2 linked regions of the Homo sapiens genome follow. The protein of the gene in region 1 interacts with the protein of each later gene in a biochemical or structural test. Each region holds a gene or a part of one and is shown in the gene's direction. Other genes may lie near its edges.

Evidence for each region.
Region 2: the proteins of NUP62 (region 1) and NCAPG form a complex in vitro, tested with the Homo sapiens proteins (one study listed by IntAct).

Annotation. Positions count from the first base shown.
Region 1 is NC_000019.10:49,919,505-49,923,004, reverse strand, and holds part of NUP62 (nuclear pore glycoprotein p62), read left to right. Parts: intron 1-3,500. UniProt on the Homo sapiens protein: Essential component of the nuclear pore complex. The N-terminal is probably involved in nucleocytoplasmic transport.
Region 2 is NC_000004.12:17,841,979-17,845,365, forward strand, and holds the end of NCAPG (condensin complex subunit 3), read left to right. Parts: exon of another isoform or gene 1-331; coding exon 332-401; exon of another isoform or gene 402-1,323; coding exon 1,324-1,447; 3' UTR 1,448-2,887; downstream 2,888-3,387. UniProt on the Homo sapiens protein: Regulatory subunit of the condensin complex, a complex required for conversion of interphase chromatin into mitotic-like condense chromosomes.

The DNA of each region.
Region 1 (3,500 bases):
GGTCTGGGACAAGATACTGTACCCCCCGACCTGTGGTCACCTCATCAGTAAAATGGGCACAATCATAGAACTACCTTGGGGCAGTGTGGAGGGGCAGGGGGTTGACATGGGAAGAGGCCTGGACCGGTGAACTGCTGACCACCTTGGGCCCTGTGTCAGGCCCAGAGGGAGGGGTGGCTCCCAGAAGCACCTGGGCCCCTGAAAGGCACCGGGGCCGCAGCAACACTGGCAGCGCTGGTGGTGCAAAGCTGCTGGTTTCACGGGAGAAGCTGGAAATCCAGTTTTTTTTTTTTCTGTGAGATCCAAGTTTTAAAGGTAGGCAAGTAATTCAGAAAAACCTGGAAAACCCCAGCAAACCACCAGTGTGGACAGGACTCAGGCTGCTGGCCCTCTGTGACTTCCCCTCCCCACAGCTGTCATCCTCTCTGTCCACAGCAGAGAGCAAAAGGAACCCAGCCCTCATTCCAAGAGTCTCCGAGGATTGAGGCTGGTCCCCTCTGTGCTGGACTTTACAAGCAGTGAGACGGAGTAGGGCTTCATTCCGACACAGCCCGGTCCCATGTGAAGGAGGGGAGGACAGTGTTTCTGGGGAGCAGAGGAGGAGGCCTAAAGAATCCTTCCTGAGGTTCAGGATGCCTGCTGGAAGTGGGGCTGGTGTCTTATTACTCTCTTCCTAATCCCCATGCCCCCAGCCAGAGGCCACCAGGAGCACATTGCTCATTGCGGCAGGAAGACTGTCCCCCACAGGGACTCGCAGGGCACCTCAATAAGGAGGCGTTTGGGCTAACTTGAGGAGTTGGGCTGTGTCAGGGGCAAGCCCATGACTCGCATCTATTTGACCTAGAGCCTGAGAAGCAAAGGGAGCTAGTGCCGCCGGGGTTAGTTGAGAAACAGCCAGCAGCTCTGAGTCAGGAGGGGTGTTTGGTCGTTTCTGTGGTTTGGACATCATGTTGTCTGTGTTGAGGCGTGATTCAGGAGTGGGCTTGTTGTCTTGGTCCCTCGTGGTCGTGGTGGCCTGGCCTGGGGCCCTAGGGCCCTGCCGTCGGGGCTGCTTTCTCGCAGCAAATGCACTCATCCTGCCAAGATGGAAGGGAGGTGAGAGCCACCGCTGTGTCCAGAGGAGGCAGCTCCTGCATTCGTCTGGCCCAGGATATGTGGTTCCTACAGGGTTGCTTGGGCACGGAGGAAAGTACCCGGGCTTGAGCCCAGCCAGCACTCATAGGATGGATGGTCATGGTCGGAGCTGCGGGGAGAGGCAGAGGCGGGGAACCATGGTGGGAGGGCCTCACGGGACCCCTAGGCTCCCTAGGTGCCCCCTCAATGGGCAGAGGGGTACCCCCCATGGAGAGTTTTGAGGTCAGCGGCCATCAGAGCGCCAGGCCTTAGCCCAGTTTGATGCAGACTCCTTTGCCCTCTTCTTCCTGACCTACCACAGAGCAGGAACGTATGGGGGTTGGCGAGCAGCGGACGCCCCTCTCTTCCCTGCAGGCGTCTCAGGCCATCGTCTGCAGCTGGGGCGGGCGGATCATCCTGAATTGGATTTGAGAGTGAAGCCCAGGCTGGTCTGGAAGGTCATGGAGATGGCCCAGGAAGTCTCTGGAGAATGGGAAGGGGGACTGGATGAGGCAGGGGACGGTGATGGTGGTGGCAGTGGGGAGCAAAAAAAGACCATGTTTTGGAGAGGCTCGGTGCGGTTAGGAGCTCAGCTGTGGGGCCAGACACCTGGGCCAGCCCTTACTGGTTGTGGGACTTTACGCAGGTGACTGAAGTCCTCTCCCCTTTCTCAGTTTGCTCATTTATAAATGGGAGCCATGATAGTTTCGCTTCGTCACATTGCTGGGGGAAAGTTAAGTGAGTGAGAACAGGTGAAGCCCTGGAAACAGCCCAGCGCGTGAGAAATGCCATGAAATGTGGGTGTGGAGATGTCCGCCGAGGCAGGAAGGGGCTGTGTTTGCTTCCAGTTCTCATAATGAAAGCCACCCTGCCCCCATCTTCTGGCTGCCTTCACCTGGTTCCCAGAGAAACCTCCATAGCAACCGTCTCCACCACAGCCCGGCCTGGGCCCTTCCCTCCTTCCCCCACCAACATCACTGCCTCTCCCCGGGGAAGCTGATGTTGACAAGAAGAGGGGCTGCGGATGGGGCACAGGTGTGCGCCGTTCCTCCCCCGCCACACACGCCTGTCCGCTGCTCTCAGAGTCCCTCAGCCCTGATGCCTCAGTCCCTCTCCAGGCCTTGATGTCCTGTGCCTGCACCGCCAACCAGAGCGTTTCAGCTCTAGGCTCTTCCCCAGCCTGTTCTCAACCAGCATTACCGGCCACCCCAAGGAAGGCATGGGCCTGCCCTTAGAAACTCTGCCCGAGCCGTTGCCCTCGGGGTAAAGTCAGCTCTGAGCCTGACGCCTATCCGCCTCCACAGCCTCATGGAGGCCTCTCAACCCCTTCCCAGCACCCCCTGGTTGGTTGGTTGGTCGGTTGGTTGGTTGAGTGGCTTTATTGAGATACTGTATAATCCATATCCATTTATCAGTGTCCAACTTAGTGGCTTTAGTACGTTGACAGAGTTGTGCAGCCATCACCACAGTCAATTTTAGAACATTTTCATCACGCTAAAAAGAAACTCCTAGGCCGGGCATGGTGGCTCACGCCTGTAATCCCAGCACCTTGGGAGACCGAGGTGGGCGGATCTCAAGGTCGAGAGATTCATACCATCCTGGCCAACATGGCGAAACCCCGTCTCTACTAAAAATACAAAAGTTAGCTGGGTGTGGTGGCACGCGCCTGTAGTCCCAGCTACTTGGGAGGCTGAGGCAGGAGAATAGCTTGAACCCGGGAGGCAGAGGTTGCGATGAGCTGAGATCACGCCACTGCACTCCAGCCTGATGACAGAGTGAGACTCCGTCTCAAAAAAAAAAAATTAGCTGGTGTGGTGGCACACATGTGTAATCCCAGCTATTAGGGAGGCTGAGGTGGGAGGCCCACTGGAGCCCGGGAGGTTGAGGCTATGAGCGTGATTGCACCACTGCACTCCAGCCTGGGAGACAGAGTGAGACCTTGTCTTAGAAAAAAAAAAATTTTTTTTTAATGCAGTAGGTAGAGGGGAAAAAACTTTCAATACAAGAGTAAGAAATAAAAGTTATTGGCCAAAAAGGAAGAAGCCTTGGCACCAGAGTATTCCTCAAATCTCTTCCAGTCCTTTTATATTAAGAGCAAGCGGTGGTTCTAGAATCTTCCTTAAAATCTCTCTCTGGCTGTTTCCTAACTTTTCCATGGTTGTCTTAGCTGATTCGTTTTTCCTGTGGGGAAAATTGCTGTTGGTCCTGCGACCAGAGCTCCTTTGGTAGCTTCTGGGCCTGGGGAGTGGGAAGGAGAAAGTAGCTGCTAATTAGCCGTCAGGTGACTTCAGGGGAAAGCAGGAGAGAAGGTTGAAAATCAGTGAATCCACAAATCATTTAGCTACTGCCTTGAGGCCATCCTGTGTAGCAAGTGGCAGAGGCAGGAT
Region 2 (3,387 bases), on another chromosome or scaffold:
AATAATAGAGGTACTTCATTATAACACATTTTTCATATACTGTCCTCAAATACATTGAACTAAAATTTGCCTTCTTTTAACTTGCTTGAAATTTCCTTATTTTCCCTTACTCATTATTAGTGCTTACAAAATAAATTAAGTTTTAATCTTGCTTGGGTTCCTTTTTCTGTGGCAGTGATAACTGGTACCAAGATGGCTAGAACAAGTAGGAGATACATGTGTTGAAAGGATTGTTGTGTTGAAGACAAAGGATTTAGTTAGCCTAGAAACTAGATTAAAAACAAAAAGCAACTGATAATAAATCCTGATAATGAATTATACTATCTTCAAGGACAGAGAAAAGTGACAGTTTCAGCTAGGACGAACAGGAGGTGTCAGACTGCTGAAGCCGACTCTGAAAGGTATGTCATGCATGTCTAGAATATATGGAGGCCTATCTTCACTTTTTATTTCTACAAGTAGAAAAAAACTAATTTTCTTGCGAATGAGAGAGAATATATAACAAGATAGTGAAAACTATAAATAGCTGTCTTAGGTATATAGTCTAAAATTCCATCATCAAGAGCATTTGACTTCTTACGGCGTGTTTGCTTTTGCCTATTAGCTGGCATGGTCTTTAGTACTATCTTTAATATGTTGTTTCAATTTTTAATTACATGATGTGACTCCTCTTTGATCTTCAGTTAGCAAACTCTTGATTTTGATAATATTTGGGTTCTCTACACTTACATACTGATAGAATAATTCTGTCTATAATTTGGGTATATTGTGTGGTAGAGTGTTTTATTTTTGGCTTCTGTCAGTCAAGCCACTGTTAGAGCTGAAAGTTGGTAGCTGTCTTGTATTCATTTGCAAAATTGTATTGTGTGTATTTTCAGTACATAGTTTTACACTGTTGATTAAATTTGTCTTTTTTGGGGGGAAACTTGTTTTTTACTATGTTTTTGGAATTTATTGCTTAAATCAAGAGAGAGAACTTAATTTTTTTGTCACTTCTTGAGTTTCAAAGAAATCTCTTTTGGACAGTTATGGTCCTCGTTTAATTACAAGCTTCATTACAAGTTTGTGGCTTTTTTTCCTGTATAACACCAGGTTCTGTTATAGTATATAAAATCATTAGCTAGATTTTCCCTGATTCACTTTGCTAGATAGCCAAGTCAGTGTTTTTTTGACATTGAGATTTTAGTTTTAAGCTAAGTCAATGGAATCAGGCTATCAATTAAACACTGATAGAATGTGAGTCAGAAACAAAAAAGTTTTATTTATAAATAAACTGGTTTTAAAGCTTGTATCTAAATTCGTGTATTTTCAACATCTATTTAGTGATCATGAAGTTCCAGAACCAGAATCAGAAATGAAGATGAGACTACCAAGACGAGCCAAAACCGCAGCACTAGAAAAAAGTAAACTTAACCTTGCCCAATTTCTCAATGAAGATCTAAGTTAGGAAAGACGATGGAGGTGGAATCCTTTAAGATTATGTCCAGTTATTTGCTTTAATAAAGAAGAAGTTACCCTTGTCAAAATCAGAACAAACCTGATGTCTTTCTGAAGATTTTCTGCTGTGCGCTTCCACGTTACTTTGGCCTGTATTAAAGCAGTAGAGCAGCATCAGTTATTATAGTCCAGAAAAAGTGTGCATCAGTCAGTCACACAGATTTATCACAATCTGAGGTGGGCCTAGGAATCTCATTTTTAAATAGTCTCTCCAAGTGATTCTTATGAACTCTTTATGTTTAAAATCATGTCATTATGGAAAACTTACAAGTGTAACTAGCTAGTAGCTTGCATTTGAGAAGCTTATGACTTAGATGGGCAGAATCAACAAAGATGAAACCGCCTGAGGACACATTTAACAAGTAACATTTCTAGGGAAAATGAAGGAAGTACCACAAACTGGCTAGAAAGGAGCTTATCAATCACCAGTGAGGAAGACCAGTATAACGTTCAACAACAGTTATTTTGACAAAAACTTATTTTGTGATTCCTACAGTGAAAACATTTTTGGTGATATCTGCCTGGGAAATCTCTCTTCCTAAAGTATTTGTATATGGGAGTCCTTGTTTGTGAATGTTTCCTGGATTAGGGAGGTGTCAACATAAATGTATTATTAACCATGAAGCTGCTCGCTATATTTTTGGCATAACAAAATAATATTTATTTACTGTGGATAATAATTCTAGTGGGAATATAATGTGACAGGAACTTCTCTTTATATACGCTACCAATTTATGAGCACTATTCACTGTCAATTTCATTTCTTGTCTTTTGAAATTGACACTTGGCCTGACTTACGAAACTTGTACTATATGAAATTGGTCCTCTTTTCTGCAATACCCAACGAAACACCTTTTCTCTTTATTATTCAGAAATGTCCTAACATGGATCTGTTTGTTTTAATAATTGTGCTTTTTTTAGGCTTATCATCTACTAGAGGCCATTTACTTAAGGTGAAATTTTAAGATGGAGCTAAAGTAAGATCACTGGTTTTTAGAACCAAATTGCTATACATATGTGCCTCATAGAACTTATAAAAGGAGTCAAAGTTTCAAAGCAAGATAGTTATTAAGCAAAAGGAAAAATGGTAATGATAGAAAGTCAGTTAAAAATAGATGATTGTTCTTCATTCTGTTTGTTGGCTCTGTGTTCTCCTGTGCTTCAGATTCCTTATGTGTTGTTGTTTTAAAGACAATTTGCAGGGGGTTGGGAGAAGGACTGAAAAGGTACATTAAGTGTGCTGTAAGGAAAAGTCTTAGAAACATAATAAGCTAAAATCCCATTCACACATGGCCAGGCTATCCAAAAAGAAAGGAGCCATGTTCTCATGTGGTTTACCATACCAAAGCTTGCTTTCTCTGGCATGGGAAAAATAAATTTAAGCACCAAACCTTTAGTATTCTGAGTATTCAGTTTTTAGACATAGTCATGTAGCCATTGCTGAAACTGTGCTTTGCACTATTAAAGGTAGGGAATGTCCTGCTTTTAAAAGTCATCCCTTTAACTTTAAAATAAAAGGCTAAGGTACAATAAAACAGATGTAAATCCATTTACCATTTTTCATTCAAAACTGGTAACTTACAGAAACCACATAGTATTTTTCTCTATCAAGAGGCACAGATTTGCTGAACAGTAAACATGCAATTGTGCCATTGCTCTTAAAGCCCACAGACTTAGATTTAAAATACAGAGAAAGAACTGATAAGCTCACATTTTCCTGTGAATGGGAAACATGCTACTTGACAAAAAGCTATGATCAACTTTTTTTCTTCTGTACATATATAACGTTGAAGGAGATTTACTTCTAAGAGATACCTTTGCCTTTTCTTTCACCAATTTGCTTCGAGGTAGTTGGTATCCACCTGTTTTACAACTGCTCATGGGTCAGGT